4 separate regions of the Homo sapiens genome follow, and all the other regions are reported to be linked to region 4. The links are microRNA targets in miRTarBase. Many come from high-throughput screens and were not tested one by one. Region 4 holds a microRNA gene; each other region holds the end of a gene's coding sequence.

The links. Region 4 holds the annotated microRNA hsa-miR-504-3p (GGGAGUGCAGGGCAGGGUUUC, at 1,708-1,728, shown strand). A microRNA usually pairs through its seed, bases 2 to 8, with sites in the 3' UTR of a target mRNA and lowers its output. Matches are read on the target gene's strand: a 7mer-m8 pairs with bases 2 to 8, a 7mer-A1 pairs with bases 2 to 7 and ends in A, and an 8mer does both.
Region 1: the mRNA of TSHZ2 is a reported target of hsa-miR-504-3p. The part of its 3' UTR that is shown has no 7-base or 8-base seed match.
Region 2: miRTarBase lists LYRM4 as a target of hsa-miR-504-3p. The part of its 3' UTR that is shown has no 7-base or 8-base seed match.
Region 3: the mRNA of CCDC170 is a reported target of hsa-miR-504-3p. Seed matches in the 3' UTR shown: 8mer at 3,039-3,046 and 8mer at 2,220-2,227.

The regions. Positions count from the first base shown.
Region 1 is chr20:53,255,753-53,260,291 of GRCh38, forward strand. It overlaps TSHZ2 (teashirt zinc finger homeobox 2), which reads left to right. Exons shown (of 3, transcript NM_173485.6): 2 at 1-819. The coding sequence ends at 811. Among named protein-coding and RNA genes, the nearest start is that of TSHZ2-AS1, 250 kb to the right of the region's middle.
Region 2 is chr6:5,105,847-5,110,385 of GRCh38, forward strand. It overlaps LYRM4 (LYR motif containing 4), which reads right to left. Exons shown (of 3, transcript NM_020408.6): 3 at 2,573-3,645. The coding sequence ends at 3,577. The region is part of intron 3 of LYRM4-AS1 (LYRM4 antisense RNA 1); the gene reads left to right. Among named protein-coding and RNA genes, the nearest start is that of PPP1R3G, 23 kb to the left of the region's middle.
Region 3 is chr6:151,617,471-151,622,009 of GRCh38, reverse strand. CCDC170 (coiled-coil domain containing 170) reads right to left here. Exons shown (of 11, transcript NM_025059.4): 11 at 817-4,063. The coding sequence ends at 3,863. Among named protein-coding and RNA genes, the nearest start is that of CCDC170, 130 kb to the right of the region's middle.
Region 4 is chrX:138,664,913-138,669,451 of GRCh38, reverse strand. It overlaps MIR504 (microRNA 504), which reads left to right and starts at 1,659; the gene lies at 1,659-1,741. All of the region lies in intron 3 of FGF13 (fibroblast growth factor 13), which reads left to right.

The DNA.
Region 1 (4,539 bases), not on the chromosome of region 4:
TGACCTGACCAAGTCCAAAAGCAAGAAAGCCGAGTCCTCGCAAGCACAATCTTGTATGTCCCCACCTCAGAAGCACGCTCTGTCTGACATCGCCGACATGGTCAAAGTCCTCCCCAAAGCCACCACCCCAAAGCCAGCCTCCTCCTCCAGGGTCCCCCCCATGAAGCTGGAAATGGATGTCAGGCGCTTTGAGGATGTCTCCAGTGAAGTCTCAACTTTGCATAAAAGAAAAGGCCGGCAGTCCAACTGGAATCCTCAGCATCTTCTGATTCTACAAGCCCAGTTTGCCTCGAGCCTCTTCCAGACATCAGAGGGCAAATACCTGCTGTCTGATCTGGGCCCACAAGAGCGTATGCAAATCTCTAAGTTTACGGGACTCTCAATGACCACTATCAGTCACTGGCTGGCCAACGTCAAGTACCAGCTTAGGAAAACGGGCGGGACAAAATTTCTGAAAAACATGGACAAAGGCCACCCCATCTTTTATTGCAGTGACTGTGCCTCCCAGTTCAGAACCCCTTCTACCTACATCAGTCACTTAGAATCTCACCTGGGTTTCCAAATGAAGGACATGACCCGCTTGTCAGTGGACCAGCAAAGCAAGGTGGAGCAAGAGATCTCCCGGGTATCGTCGGCTCAGAGGTCTCCAGAAACAATAGCTGCCGAAGAGGACACAGACTCTAAATTCAAGTGTAAGTTGTGCTGTCGGACATTTGTGAGCAAACATGCGGTAAAACTCCACCTAAGCAAAACGCACAGCAAGTCACCCGAACACCATTCACAGTTTGTAACAGACGTGGATGAAGAATAGCTCTGCAGGTATGGGTTTGCTCTGAGGCATTGCGATTAGCCTGGTGAGGAGCTTTCTTACAGGGAGATGGGTCTGCTTAGAGGCAGCTAGCATCTCCCAATGCCAAGCAGGATAGTAGCTTGCTGGAGTAGGATTTATTTTAATGAAAGACCAGAACATGAAAACTAAGTCCTAATCATTCTCTTAAGTCCTCTAGTTTAGAGCTGGGAACTAGAATAAAACGGGTTTAGAGAGATAAAGTTCACAGATTACTACTGCTTTTTTTAGGCCTTCATCATCCATAATCCTGAATTACCCAAGGCAAGCTCCAGTGTCCAGCCAAGGCTATCTTTCATTTTAATTATTAGATACTAACTTCTGTCACCATTCCATTTCACCACCCCACCTTTCCATAGCAATGCCAATGACTTATAAAGTGACAAAAAGTTGAGCAATGGAAGAAAGATTGGAGAGTGCTAGAAGTAGTTACTATATAGAGATTCCTTAATCAGCTCATGAATAGCTTAAAGTTGTCTTTATGATTGTTACTTGTAATGAATGCTTTTTTGCAGCTTACTTTTAGTAATTGCCACCTTCCACCTCTTCCCTTTGGTTATTTTCTACATTAAGTGTCCTATGAATGAGCATGTGCCCTTAACAGGTTGGTAGAAAAATATTCTTCTTTGCAGAACATTGAGATGAAAAGAAGCTTATTTTCTTCTTTCATCTTTTGGTTTTCTTGTGGATAGACCAGTATTAGAGCCCACCTTTAACAAAGATAGAGGCAATGTGTGCCCTTGAGGTTTCATTTCACATAAAGAAACAAATGGCTTTCTGTACACTTATGTTAATGTGCATGGAGTCCCATAGCTTGAAGATAATGTGCATCATGTGTCATAGAAGTTCCATGCCTTATATAGTCAACCATGCCCAGACCATTTGTGTCATTTTTAGGAAACAGGGCAGAGACCAAGGTCAAATGCTTTGGCAGATTAGTTTCACCAGCCATTTTCAAATGTTGAGGATAAGCAAGGCTGGGTCTTAACCAATCTCTTTCATTTGCCCATTTGTGTTTTCTCTACTTCTTTTTCTCTCCCTTCCAGCATGATGCCCGCATACACTAAGGGCCCTCCTATGTGTTCAGGTGGTCCTCCACCTTCGGCCATTCCCCAAGATGGGAACCCAACCTGAACTAAACCTTCTGTGCTGACCAATCCAGTTGACGTCATGTTAAGTTACGGATTTGCTCCTAGTTAATTAGCTCTTAATTCACGATCGAATATGAAAAACTAATAACATATAATCGCTCACCACACCCTATTGTCAGAGCATTGGTTTACAAATAGAAGACTTTCAGAACAAGCTAGAAAGGTAGGACACTAGGAGAGTTCCAGGTAGAGAGCGGTATTTACATGGCATGGCTTTGGGCTTGCCTCACATCAGACAGAGGGGTTTACTGGGTGTGAAGATGGCCAAGATGAAATAAAAAGTTAAAATATCTGACCTGGGACTTTCCCCTGAGTGAGGCGATCTACGCTTCTGATGGAGAGGAGTCCTCCTATAACTCTAATTGCTATCTAGACCCAAATGAAGACTATCTTTTTGGTTTGCATGTTTTTATCATGATGATTGAATGTGTTATTGGCAGATTCTTCTCATTCTTTCCAAGCATGATTTGTTCAGCTCACGGAATTGAAAGAAAAGCCAAAATGCATCCATTGAATTCACACCTGAGCTTGGGGTTCAACAGCGTCCTATTTATTTGCTGCATAACATTTTAAATCTTAAATAACTTGCCATTATGTTTTCCTGGTTCTTAAAAAAAAAGAGGGGGGGCATACAGAGAATACTTAGAGAGAAGAAAGATATTTCAAATCCAATAGTGGTGGGTTGAAACCATGGTGAAGAGGACAAATAGGTAATATTTATTTGTACTATAACAAAGACCACTTTTCCACCTGTTAGGTTTGTAATCTTTTTTAGAAAATTAATATAATTGCCAAAACACTCTGATATGTAGATAGGGAGAGGTAAGGAAAAGAAAGCTTGATCCATCGTCAGTCAGAATCTGGAGTGTATGATACCTGTTCTAGGGATTCAAAGGTGAACCAATAATTTGGAAAAACATATACAAAAGGTACTTCCAAATCCATTAAATACATAGATAAGATAGCCATTTTGGCACTTCTCTGCATTTGTACAGGATGAGTATATCTAATTTGGACCTCGAAAGCACCGTATTGGTGTTTTCATTATACAAAACCAAAGCTCCATCCTTACAAGCACCATTAGGCTGTGGTTCTGAGAGGATTGCAGAAAAACAGGTTTGAGTGTTTGGGACTCACTCAAAGCCATGGGCGTGTATGTATGTTTTGTAAACAGAAAAGATGGTGCAGGTACTGGCTGTGTTTGTGTTCATCGTAAAAATACTCCTATCTGCCTGAATGTTTCCCCCATCTGTACAAAGGTCGATTCTTGGTGCTTTGGTCACCTTAGAAAAAAATGCCTCCACCCCCGGGGTCCTCTTTTAGAACAATATTTATGCAATACCTTGCCCATTGCTTAGAATGATGCATGTAAGGTTTCTAAATGGTCATGAAATGACATCACTGTTGTCTGGAACTCTAATCTTAGTTGTAATGCATAGTAGCACAAATTGTGCAAAGTGACATGATATTTTAGAAAGTATGATCAAGATTTCTTGGAAACTATGAGAGCTTTAACCTATCAATGTTTTTTGAAAGACACAACTTTTGATCTGAATTTTCTTTCCTTTACCAGATATATCTTAAATCCTGCAAAATGCTCTGCCAAATATTAAATGCAACTTTTCGTTAAAAATTTCATTAGAAAATATTAAGTGTGCATCTCTATTTTAGGTCATAAGTAATCTAAAACAATTTCAATATGTATTTGTATATAGCTTTAAAAGCCACATGCTCTTGACTAATAGAAATTAAACAGAGAGCAAATCAATGAGTCTGAAATGCATAAAGGCTTGAAATTATAGTCATCACTGTGTAATATAGTGTACAAGCTTAACAGCACACCTAGCCTTGAAATTGTTGGCAGGAAAGTATTCTAGTCCAATGAGCTGCCACTTCTGTTGTGGGCGGCTTGATAAAAACACATATTCAGGGTGAAAAGCGCGTAAGGTTGCCAGACAAAATACAGAACGGATGTCCAGTTAAATGTGTATTTCAGATAAATGACAAATAGGTTTTGAGTATAAGCCTGGCCCAAATATTGCATGGGCCATACTTATATTTTTAAAATATTCATTGTTTATCAGAATTCAAATTTAACTGGGCATCCTGTATTTTTATTAGCTAAATCTGGCAACCCTAACAGCATAGATTATATGGCAGTTGGGAAGAACAAAATAGCCTGGACAAATTAATATCTATTAATGGCATCAACCATTCCTTCCTCCATTAAATAAATATTCCTTCCTTTCATCCTCTTTTCCCTCCTTTGTTCCTTCATTCCTTCCTCTTTCCCTTCTTTCCTTCCTTCCTTTTTTCTTCTTTCCTTCCTTCTTTTCTTCCCTCCCTGCATTCCTTTCATCCTTCAACAAATACTGGTTGTGCTTTTACTATGCACCGGACTCTATTATATTTAACAATGGAAGTATAATACTGAACCAGAAGTTCTACCAATTGTAATAGCAAAACATGCCAAGCCTTGCAGCAAGCACTTTGCAAACATTATTTTGCTTTATTCTCACAAACAGCCGTATGAAGTAGAGG
Region 2 (4,539 bases), not on the chromosome of region 4:
TCTTGCCTAAAAACTCCCGAGTTGCTCACCATCCTTAGGCTGAGGCTCCAAGGCCGTCCACGATGTGGAAAGAGCCCTCTTCCTTGGCTGCCACCATCCCAGACTCCCTTTAGTTCTTTGCATGGAACTACCCTCTCCCCCAATTAAGGGCTTTGCATGTGCTGTTCCTCCTGCCTAGAGAGCTCCTCTCCCCACCTTCACACAGCCAATCCTCATCATTAATTTGCACGTGTAAATATCCCCTGGGGAGCCCTTCCCTGGCCCGTCCCATCGGCTCTGGCAGCACTCATATTTCCCTCTTTGTAACATTCATAAGACTTGTCATTTTCTTCTCAGATTTCCCTGCTAGACACAGGCTTTATGAAGGTACGTCTGTCTTGTTCACTGGTTGCTCCCTGGCACCTGGCACCTGGCACTAGGTGGCCTTAGTCAATACTGAGTGAATAAATGAATGAGTGAAAGGGGTTTAGGGGAAAGGCCCTGACTCTGTACGTGATCTGCAGATGTTCAGGCTCTTTGTTTTAACACCTGAAGATTTGAGGGTTGGACTAGGTGAGCTCTGATGTTTGTCATCTTTGTAGGCTTCACCCTCTGCCTGTCCCTTTTGCTCCTGGATGATGGTGGGTTGTATGGTGGGGCTTGAGATTAACGGGAGAGGCTGTGGATGAAGGGAGTTAAAGGTCACTGCTACTTAGTTAGCAGCAGGACGGAGTATACCTAAAGCAATCTAGCCAATTCTTTCAGTTCCAAAATCCAGATTCCAACAGCCATCAGAACAACACAGCCCTGTACTTGGCCGTGCAAGATCTCCCAGCTATTATGTCATGACAGCCAGCCCAGCCCAGAGCTGTCTCTGAAAGTCTAGGATATAGCCTTGCTCGGCCAATGAGTTCTGCCTGGGAAGTTAACTAATGATAGTAGTTCTCATTTGCTCAATATTAGTGCTGCAAAGTGATCTCCAGACCCCAGCCCGGATCCTATCTTCAAAGCAGGCACAAGTTCTAGAGAGTTCTGTGAGGCTGGCCATGATGGATGTTGGAGTTGCCCACATTCCCCTCAGTTGGTGCATAGTCAAGGAGGTGGAATACTTCCCTAGAGAAACACCAGGGGTCACCCCCATGGGAATGCCACTTTATTCGAAGCTCTAGCATCAATATTGGGTCATCTCAGTTGGGGAGTACCCAGTGCCAGGCTCTGCCTGCCAGATATACACCTGAAAGGTGGAGGACCAAGGCCTGTTTGTGGCGTTTCCTGCCACAGAATTCGGATTTGTATCTTTCTGCAGATTCCAAAGGCATAGTTAATTTTACAAAATTAAGTCTGCATTAGCAAGGCTTTGGGCATGTTCAAACCCATTCATGCAGTTTAATGAACACAAAAGCAACCTGCTGTTACAGCCTGCAGCCCACGTTAAGTTTGGGTGGACTGCCTCATTGCGTAAAACCTGGGGGAGTGGGAGAAGTCTCCTCTGGAGCTGTTATCTTGCCGGCAATTTGATGCCTTCAGCACGGAGGTTCAAATCTGGACTTCGGTTCCAAGTAGCAGTTGCTTAAATTAAGTATAAATCAGCAGTGCCGTGCGTTAGTAGCGTGGTTGGATGCATTCACTGCTGAGTGACCACGAACTCCACTGCACTGATGCAAGGTGGAAAACCTGAGCCAGAGCCACACACAGGGCTGGGCTGGGCGGCTCTGCCCCGTGACAGTCAGCTGAAGGGAGTGATTATACTTGCCACATCACCTCCGTTCACTGTCCACCGAACAGCTCTCCCCCAATTAGGGCTTTGCATATGCTCTAACACTGCAGCTCCCAGGCAGGAACTGGTTAGAGGGTAAGAGATCTGGGACTTGCTAAGAGCTTCATTATTTTCACAGATGCTCAGGACTTTATCCTGAAATTGGCAGGGGGTGGTGGTTCATGCCTGTAATACCAGCACTTTGGGGGGCCGAGGAGTTCAAGACCAGCCTGGCCAACATAGTGAAACCCCGTCTCTATTAAAAATACAAAAAATTAGCTGGGCGTGGTGGCAGGCCCCTGTAATCCCAGCTACTCGGGAGGCTGAGGCAGGAGAATGGCTTGAACCCAGGAGGTGGAGGTTGCAGTGAGCCAAGATCGCACCGCTGCACTCCAGCCTGGGTGACAGAGCGAGACTCCATCTCAAAAAAAAAGACTTTATCCTGAAATCAAAAGTTGTACTGCCAAATAGAATGGCTACACGTTACATCTATTTGAACGCATCATTGCAGCAAATCTATGCTCTCTAAAAGCGACTGGAAGACATGAGTTCTCATATGAGGGTGAGAAGAACACGGGCTCAGACAGTGCGTACTCACTCCCATGACCGTCGGAGTTAAAATGAGGGGGTGACAGTGCTGCAGCTATTCCAGGACCGGTGCTATTTATAGGAGCCTGTTCCAAACCTTAACCCACAGATACCAAATCCACTGAGCACTGTATGCAAAGGGAAACAAGAAACCGCTCTGCCAGGTCTGGTCCCTCGTAAACTCCCCAGATGACAAGCAAGTTATTTAATATGTTCTTTCTATGTTTGGAATGAATCTGTTTCCAAGAATAAAAGCATACAAACAATATCTTTATTACCTGTAATATACTTAAAGAGCAGGGGTCCCCAGTTGGTTAAACATTGAAAACAGTGGGAGAGCTTCAGAATAGAGAAAAATGACTGTGCCTCACCCCTCACTTACTGAGTCAGAATCTGCAGAGAGGGAAGTGCTGAGAGATGTCTTTTTAAAAAGCTCTCCAACTCTCCAGGTGCTTCTGTCCACCAGCCAGATTTGGGCACCGGTGCTGCCCAGCATGCCCCAGGCTTCAGGGTATGGGAGTCGCCCTGGGCTTGGGTCAGGCTGGGGCTCTCTCATTCACCAGGTGTGGGGAGGGGCTTGAGCCTGCATTTCCAGCAAATTCCCAGGTGGGGCTGAGGTTGCTGATCTGCAGTGCTCCATCTCTGGGTGTGTACCTACACACCCGTCACCTTTGTTGTACTGGGCTCAGGTATAAGTTGCAGGGTGCACCGTGTATCCCCGTAGCCCTGCCCTACTCCATGCTGCCCCCAGTCTCAAGTGGTGCTTGAACTTGCCTTCACCAAGGCAGTTCTCGTCTCAGAGTTGAACCCTCCCTGAGGGCCCCCAACAGCCCTCTCCAGGCCTTGTATCAGTAGGAAATGAAAATGCATTAATTGGGAGGGGTTTATCTGGGGTCAAAGGCTCAGGGAGATCATTCTTTTTATTGCCAAGGACCAAGAAACAAAGTGTAGAAATGCTATACACAATGGTCATGAGCTACAAGGTAGGAATGGGGTGCAGGGGAGACGTGGTAACACACAGCACTATTCTGAACGAACTCCAGCTCTCCATTCTAACACTTGAACCAAGGAAAGACAGCAGTCCTTTTTCACTAAGCCTGCAACAGAATGCAAATGTGACTTGGTTTATCAGCTCCCACAGGACAGGCAGCGCAAAAGGCTATTGTAAGCTGGTTTTGGGAGCCCCCATCTCAAACAGAGAGTGGATGCTGAAGGTGGTCCCTGGCCGCCACTGGTGGCTGGTCCCCGGCTTGCTAGGTCCTGGGCATGTCTCGATTCTCAATGATCAGCTTGTCAGTTGAATACAGTTGGCCAATGTGGACCTGAAGGCAAAGAAAGGACACAGGTCAGGAACCGTGGCCCTCTAGCCCCTGGGAAAGGCCAGAAGGAACATTTCCTAACATTTCTAATACAAACGTCGGCCATCCCAGGGCTGCTCCCTTCCGGCAACTGCACTGCGGGGCAAAGCCGGCCACTAGAGCACCATCCAACCCCCGTTTCCCTCACTGTGAGAAGTTACAGAGATCCACACACCCATTCCTCCCCTCTGAAACAGCACAGGAGGCTGCAGCCTGGGACTCGGGGCTGTGCTGAGCTGGGTGACGCCTGCCTGCTGGTGGCAGAGCTGTCAGATGTGTGCCCAGTACCTCCTCTCCTAAGAGGGCTTCCTTCCCTTAGAACTGATTCTCGCATAGGGAAGGGGTTTTAGAACAGTGCAGAAATGGGCGCCGTCTATGCTGGGGTAGGAAAAGCGCTGCATTCAGGGCAATGCAGACACCTGTCCGTGGCCCATCCCGGGTGGGGTCGAGGGCAGTTGTCTGAGTGCCTGCACCTCCTGCCTTCTATCTTTCCTGCCCCCTTCTTTTTAAAGTGTCCTTTTTATTAAGTGTCTTAATGCCCAATGTTTCCACTGTCCCAGGTGGATGCTGGAGCCATCCTCTGGGGCTAGAGCAGGTCTTTCCTCTGCAACAAAGGGTCTTGCCACAGTTTTTCTGTAAAGCATTTCCTGAGTGATACATTTTTAAGAACAAGTGGAATGGGTGAAGGAAGGGCTGATCATTAGCAACTCTATCTGGATTTCAGACCAGTTGGTCACTATCTATGGGTAATTCGGGGTGAGTAACTGCTGTTTAAGCAAACAGAGCAGCCAGGGGTCAACATCCTCATGGTTTTCCTCCCCGATCTTAGTGCTCTATTTCGAAGTGAAGGCCCCGGAC
Region 3 (4,539 bases), not on the chromosome of region 4:
GCTTTATGGGCATTAAAGCTACCCAAGATGAAGGCAGCACCCGGTGGGGGTAGTGAAGACACCTATGAACCACTTGCAAAAGTCTAAAGCAGGGAGAATAGATAGGCTTTTAGTAGGTAACCCCAATGAGGTCTAGAAGAAAGTTATCCATCTATCAGCTAGCAGGAGCCTCAAATGAACCATGTGTTTATACAAAGGCAGAGGAATACGGTATGGAAGCACATAGCGGAAAGAGAAGCATACAGACCCCACTTGCTAATGAGAAGCTAAGTGAAGTGTCCAATAATGTGGATAAAATCACTACTGCATCAACTGGGTGAGACTTTCCAAGCCAAAGGCTACATAACCATGAAATGCTTCCCCAGTTAAAATGAGACTCCATTTCTGAGTCGTAAGTATTATGACAATATCAATAATGTAGATTTCTTTAACAGCTTCAGCCTGCCACCCCTGGACCTTGAATCACTTGCTGTTAACCTGTAAAACAGACTGTAAGGTAAAACTGGAAATTTTAGATAGGTCAAGCTTAAATTGTTTTCCCTAAATGAGATGTTTTTATGCATCGATTTAGATGTCTCAGACAGTGACCAGAATAATAACCTCAGTGCAAAATCACTATCACTCAAGTGTATTTGACAGAAGAGTTAGTATTAAATATTTTAAAGCCTTATGTAAAAATCATATCAACCTAGTGCATTTTATTGGACAGCATAAAATATACATGGATATTATAGAAGAACAAAATCTAACCTAAAAATTCAAAGCTGGCCTGCCAACTCTGGAATGATTGCCATAAAGGGAAATCCAACAACCAACTGGCATTTTAACAAAGAAGAAAATGGCTTTATTAAAAGTTTTCAATTTGTCCAAATGACAAACACTTAATGTGTATATGGACTGTATACATGTACAGAATTTATTGTTCCCATTTCATATACCCTTTTCATTAGAAGTCCCTAAAGATCATATTCAAACATTTTTCATATTTCTGAGTATGTTAAAGATCACTGTAGATCATTCTGTGTATGTTAAAGATCACTAGAGTCACACAGTGGAAATATTATATAAACATATATTTGGATAAATGGAATGTAATTTCATGTAATAAACAGAAATTACAGTACTAACCACTATGGATCATTTTTAGTCTCTTACATGAATCCTGATATAAAATTAATGATATCAAATCAAAAATGAAAAAAAAATTTCATGTTTTTAAAATATTATTTAAAATATCTTTGAATAGCGTAGAAAATAAATTTCCCAAGAAACTAAATCAAGTTTATTAAAGATTATATTTGGAAAATGAAAACAAAGAGAATGTACAAAAACAATCTCCACTCTCATACACCCACATCCACCCATAACTGCATTTATGGGTGCATGATTCAGGGTGGGGCAGAGCCACTCAAGCTCCGAGAGCCTCCAGAGACCCAGTGAAGTCACTTCCTCCACTCAAGGTGATTTTCGATCCAAAACAGCAGACACTACTACATCTTTGGAGCATGTGAAAAGGGGTTGGTGGGGAAAACTGCAGGCCTCCCCTAGAGGAAATTCAAGACTGCCTGTCCTGCCTCTGGCCAGCCTAGTGACCTCAGCCAGGGCTGCGCAGGTGTGTTTACTCACATGCAAAATACTACTTATACTGTCCTTGCACATGAAGGAGATAGCTAGGCAGGGATGCCCGCTCCACAAGCAAAGCCTGGTCACTCTCCCTCTGTGTGGTCTGTCATCCAACCAACAGGTGTCAAATTCATTCGCTTTCTTTTAGGTTTTTCTGTTTCTTTCTTTCTCTCTTTCTTCTTTTTTTTTTTTTTTTTGGAATCATCCATTCTACATTTATTGGTAGTTTTCCTAAAAGAAGATCTTCACTATTTTTTCCCATTTTATCACTTATTGTCTGTAGCACTGTGGATTCTCAGATTTTTAGTTATTTAAAGTATAACAATCAGTGCATTTGTCAAGCTTAAAAAATTAAAAATATTTTAATATAATCTAGGACTTAGTCCACATTCAAATTTTTACAATTATTGCAAGAATATTTTATGCTTTTTTTCATTCAAACCAAGATCCAATCTAGTTTTGACCCTTGCAATTGATTGTTTCATCTCTTTAATTTCTTTTAGTCTAGAAGAAAGAAGCCAATAATTTGCTTATTATGACTTTGACTTTTTGTTGTTGTTGTTTTTTGAGACAAGGTCTCTCTCTGTTGCCCAGGCTGGAGTGCAGTAGCGCGATCTCGGCTCATTGCAACCTCCGCCTCCCAGGTTCAAGCAATTTTCGTGTCTCAGCCTCTCGAGTAGCTGGGATTACAGGCATATGCCAACATACCGGGCTCATTTTTGTATTTTTTGCAGAGACGGAGTTTTGCCATGTTGGCCAGGCTGACTTTGACTTTTTGATGACTCACGAACGGTTGGTTGTATATTTTTCATTTTCTCCTAATGTTCGGGTGCACCAGATCTATTTCTTTCCCTTTCCTTTAATTTCATGCTAGAGCTTCTTTTAAGGACAATAAAAAAATACATCTTATATGATAGAAATAAGATAAATTGTCCAAAAGAGTAACACATTTTTCTCAGTGAAGTTAAGAATATGATTCCCTGAAAAATTTGTAAAATAGAAATTTAAATGGAAAACAGAAAGTGACAGGAATTCATAATAAAATCCTGATCTTAAAAAGGTACCATTGCTGTGGGTGTATTGGATATATTGGTGAATAAGACTATATAGGATTTCTTCATCTTATAGGGTTGGGCTCCAAATAAAGCTTTCCATTTTAAAGGACTGAGACCAGCCCTGCTGAAACATTAACAATTACCACCAGATATAATCTGGTAGCAACAGTTAGAACAGGCAAGTTTCTTACAGGACCTGAGACCTATGTAAGTTTGATCCAAATGAATTAGGTATATTGCTTTTGCTTTTTGAAGAAATCATATAGCTTACACTTGTAAATCTGTCATTTTTGGACATTAACTTTTTTTTTTTTTTTTTTTTTTTTTTTCTGAGATGTAGTTTCACTCTGTCGCCCAGGCTGGAGTGCAGTGGCACAATCTTGGCTCACTGCCGCCTCCGTCTCCTGGGTTCAAGTGCTTCTCCTGCTGAGTAGTTGGGATTACAGTCATGCACCACCACACCTGGCTTATTTTTGTATTTTTAGTAGAAACAGGGTCTCACTATGTTAGCCAGGCTGGTCTTAAACTCCTGACCTCAAATGATATGCCTGCCTTGGACTCCCAAAGTGCTGGGATTACAGGCATGAACCACTGTGACCAGCCCGGACATTAACTCACGATGGCAGGGTTATTGTCCTTCCTCTATGCAAACAATTCCCACCAGCATCACAGAGATTCAGGAGAAACAGATTCTGCATAGCAGGAGAAGAGGTATGGCTTTTGAGGCAGGGCCAATGAGTTGTCCATCCTGGTCCCACCACTACCCAACTGCAACCTTGGATAGGTAACTTTATGTCTGAGCCCCAGAAAGGTTGTAAATTAAAAATGTCACAGCTTCTCCACATGGTTATTGTGAGAACTAAATCGGCTAGTAAAGCCCCTGACTTAAAATAGATACCTCCCAATATTATCTCCCACTCCCATTTCCCAATCTAACTCATGCAATCTGGTGGAATTCTTCTGGATCCTAAAATGCTAGTAAATGAAATAATAGGCGTTTTTAATGCTGAACGTTTATCTAAGGCTGACACTTTTGAGATCGTTTTTGCAAGTGATGCATTCTCACTATATCATCAAAGCATAAAATATTCACAAACTGATCAAATCTCAAAGACATGAGGAATTTGTGAAATTGGGAATTGTGTGCCATGTCTTATGGCCACCTCTCTCAAGAGATACAGTGTTCAATGAAGAAGCTGTAAATGGCCTTGTGGGTGCCTCTCTTGCCCAGTAGTCACATCTTTGAGGCAGGCACAGGTAACAAAGTGATGCTGATGTGAATGGACCAATCTTTCAAGACACTTGATGATTTCATAATCAGGAAGAGCAAGGCTGGTCACGTTCAAGCCTAGCATCTGCGACACCACCTCCCTGAAGTCTGCCAGCTGCAATATCAAACAGAAACTCATTAACTGGGAGAACAAAATGTATCAACTACTGCTGAGCCAAATGCAACAAACAAAAAACCTGTAGAAAACCCAGGTTTGCATGAGGTAGGGAAATTATCTACTCTCTTCCTAGTTCTCTCACTTATAAAATACCAGATTCCAGATAAGTCACATCAACTGCCAACCTTCAGAGATTTCACAATCACTTTTCTGATGAGCCAACTGATGTGGTATTGGCTACTAAGTCAAGAATCCAAGTTAAGTAACCATGAATGAGACCCAGACCTCACTAAGCCTTCATTTTCTCATCTCCAGGTTGGGATTAACCATACACCTACGTCGAAGGGCTGCCCTGAAATTCAGATCACATGAAATGGTGACTGTGTGTGTGCTCTGCATACTAGGAAGAACTAAACAAATGTTGGTGGGGTTGTGCCCATGGATGGTAAACATGCTTTGGGATTTTAGCTGGC
Region 4 (4,539 bases):
ACACTGGAGCCTTGTAACATTGTTTTGTGCCATGTATTGCCAGCCTGATACCACTGGAGTACATCCTCTGTCTAGTTTTCCAGAACTCACTACAATAACTGTAGGATTTTTCCATCCTTTATGAAATTGCATCAGTATTGTGAAGGGCCTTAAAAGCCATTCAGTTCAACAACCATCTCCCAAAAGAAAAGTTCCTCTTCTTTTTCCATTTATTTTATCTCTTCCCAAAGCCATGGGGACCTAGATACATCAATTATCCTTTGTCCTGTACCTTCACTACCTCCTGGACTACTACCTTTTTTCCACTGGCATACAGATCATTTCAAGACTTCTCATCCTAAAAAGTCCCTCCTAAGTTTCTCTTTCAGACTGTCTCTTTCCTTTGATAGGCAAGAGCTTTCTTCATTTTCTCGCCTATTTTTAAATTATTCAGCTTCACCTTTGCTTTTATTTTCTCATCTAATTCTTAATTATTCAGCCCTCCGCATTCTATCTTCTGCCCACATTGCCATCCATGAACTCCTCCTGCTAATGTCGCTAGTGACTGCCAACTAAAATCCATTTCTCCCTTCAGTCCTTACCTTATTTCTCCTTTCTACAGCACTTGACCAGGTTGGTCAACTTTTTCATTGAAACCATCTCTTCTGTGGGCTTTCACAACACTGCTTTTTCTCTGTTCTACACCATCACTATTTTTCTTTTAATTTTTACACTTCCCTCGTCTTTTCTGAAATGTTTGATGTCCTCCCCACCCCCAGTTTCCAGCCTCAGTAGTTGTCTTGTATTCTGCTTGTGTTCTCTAGATTATTAAATGTATTCTTGTGGTTTCAGTTACCATCCATATGCAGACACCTTTCATCTTGAGAGCCAGGCTTATATATACAAATGGCTGCTGCACATTAACCTATCACTAATGGCTCTTTAAACTCAAAATAACCAACAATGGAGTCATTGTCTCTATCTCTGAAATAGAACACACTACCCTCCCCCACTTCTTCCCCTTTTTACCCTGTGGCAACAACCTTTTGCTATCCTGATTTTAAGCAGGCTGCAGCATCATAATAAATGATACATAATATCTGCCTTTAAAATGCCTGTAGTGGTTAAGAGGGAGGGCTCTGACATTACATGGATTTGAAACACAATTCAAATGCTTATAAGGTTTATGATTTGGGGCAAAGGAATTATTAATCCATCTGTCCTTTAGTTTCCTCATCTATAAAATGGAGGTAATAGTAGTATAGACCTCATAGGGTTCTTAAGAGGATTAAATGGAATGATAATACATGCACAGCATTTTACAGTGTTAAGTTCATTAAGTTAACAAATGCTTCATATTATTTGCCGTTACAGTCCATATAATAACATGCTGCCTTCAGGCCAATATATATAAGCCTATAATTCTTGGAAGACTATGGAAATCCTATCATATATTAAATTGTCATTTTTTTTAAGACTAAGAAAAATTTATGTAAAGTCCAAAAGTACAGCTGTTTACAGGGGACGAACTGATCCACAAGGCCACAGTCTACCCTCATCAGTTAGTGTCCATCACTGAAGTGGAATAACTCAAAAGGAAAAGGTAACTCAACGAGCCATCCATTTCCCACATAGAATCACAACAGAAGACAGAAAATATGGAGTGGAATGTTGAATCAGCTGCTGTTGGGAGACCCTGGTCTGCACTCTATCTGTATTCTTACTGAAGGGAGTGCAGGGCAGGGTTTCCCATACAGAGGGCACAGACTACCACCGTATGGCAAATGTTGACTGGAACTCAACTTCAAAGCCATTTCACCTGGAATCTTACCCCACCACCCCAATGCTTCATGAAAATTCAACTGATCCTCTTCTATGAAGAAACTCAATCCTGATAAGTCTCTTTAGTAGTTATTGAAATGTCTTTGTAACTCTCTTATAGTCAGGTTCAGTAAGAATGTTAAGTTTCTAATTGAGCTTTTCTTTCTGAACAGTTATTTTGTGTATGTTTATTTTCTGTTTACCAATGTAATATATGTTCTTTGCAGAAAAATTGGAAAATACAAAAAGGTATCTACAAAGTCCCCCAACCAAGAGAAAACCAATATTAATGTTCTGTTATAGATCCTTGTAGTGGCTAGCTGGAATTCGTGTATATCTCTCTCTCTCTGTCTTTGTCTTTCTTTCTCTCTCTCTCTCTATATATATACATATATTCCAAATATACATTTTTATGTAATATATATGTATATTATATATGTATACATATATTCCAAATATACATATATATCTTCATGTAATATATACGTATTTTATATATATGTATAAATACATAATATACATATATAACCTAATATATGATATAGCATAATATATGTATACACATATATGTGTACATATATAAAATACATATATATTACATAAAGATATATATGTACATTTGGAATAACTATGCATACCATGTTTCAAACCTGCTGTTTACTCGTTATTATGACTATTCCTCTATATATTAAAATATTATTCTTAATCTACATTTTAGTGGTTGAATAGTAATAATCTATTTAGTTTGTTCTCTGTTTATTTGTTTTTGTTTTTGGGAACAAGGAACTGTTCACACCTAAATGTGTACAACCTTTATGTCTAGATCAGGCACTTGAATTCTTAAAAAAGTGTTAGGAAATGGAATAATGATCTTTTATTTATAAGTTGTATATGTTTCTGTATTCTGTTCATATATGATAATTGAAATAGACCTATATCTAACACTTTAAAATTTATAGTATTTTCATCTTTATTTCCTCATTTGATCCCTGCTACACCTTGTGAGATAGAGAAGGGCTTATTATTCTGTCCTTATAGATAAGGAAACTTATGTCCAGAAAGATGAAGTGGTTTTCCAAAAGACACGTAGCTAATAAATAATTGACAACATTGGAATTTGGAATTAGAAAGCAAGTCTTGTGACTCCTAACCAATACTCTTTCCAGTACACTTTGCCATGTCCCAACTTCACTTTCTTTAAGTGCTTCTTTCTAGCACCTCTTATTCAATTATTGTCATACGTACTTTTTGGATCATACCTTAGGAGAATGTAGCTTTCTCATGAATTTCCTCATTAGCTGACAACTGAATATGGCTAGATTTTAACAATAAAAACACATTTTTTTCTTTTCAGGAATGCAAATACACAGTGTATTATATGTAGAAAAAACTCTCAGATATTGGATCCTTATTGATGAGGCTTATGAGATAATATAGCAACTCAGACTTTTCTCAGGAAGAAGAAAATCCATGTCTTTTGTTGGACAGTTTAGAGAGTCTAGACTACCATCATTCAGCATTTGAACATTTTGATTTCAAAATGTAGACAATTGAAGAAATACAATGTAAATGCCAGGGAATTAAATCATAGGACAAAAACTCCCTATGAAAACATCTTAGTGATAGCATACATGTTAAAATTTTTGAAAACACTGGGAATGGTTTCACTTCTCATCTGAGTATCTGAGAAACAGATGATTATGTACCTCCCAGCCCTGTGTCAGCCCTAATTTAGTTGATGGCATTATTGCTCCCTGCTTTCTTTTTTTTCTCTTTATAGCAGATTGCTATTCTTTTTTACTTTAAAATAGCACCTTTTGCTGCCCTGTCTTATCCTTGTGCTCTTTTAAAAAGTGGTCAGGCACACACTTTTGTCACTAGTTTTACATGAGGGTAGGGGCTTTCTCTTTTCTTTTCAAAAATTAAGTGCCACTACATCTCAGTTAAACTGCCTTCATCTGACAAGCACTTACAGAATACTGAAATATAATCTACTGCAAAAAATCTACATGTTTTTCATAAATACGAATGAAATGCTTTTAATATTATCCCTGTGTTCAGAGTTAATGCTTAGGCATTAACTAAAGTACGCTAGACGCTTTTGATATATTTCCAAAGGCCCAGCCAGAAAGATATATTGCAGATACACATATTCTAAGTGTTTACAAAATCTTCCAAAATTATTTTGCCTGTGTCTGCTTAAAAGGCACAGGAAACAGCTCCCCTACTATCTCCTCTATCCAGTCAGGAACACTTGCAGTAAGGACACTGGTTGTTCAGTGCACAAGGATTAAAGTAACTTAATTACACAGTCAAATCAATAATAAATTGAGATCATTAGAGCCTTGGCTCGAGCTGAACCCCAGGTAGCCGTGGAATCCCTATGATACTTGAAGAAGAATTGACACAGATTCTAAGGCCTCACAGGTTCAAGGAGAAGCAGACAGCCTCACTTTGTTCCTTCAAATTAGTTTTGAGTGGAGGAATCTTAGGTTTAAGTGAGACCTGGATCTTGTTTTGGGGTGATCTCTGGAAACTGGGATATAATCTACTCTCCAGGGTAGAAGACTATGAAGGGACTAAAGGAGCAAACTCTAGGTCACTGAGAACCCCTTTCCTACAAACAAAGATCTTGGTTGTGTTCCCTCACTTCCAGAGAGCTCATTGGACCGAGCATACCCTTGAGTATTAAGGTCAGTGCATACTGAGTTTAAAAACAACATAGGTATAAAATTGAAT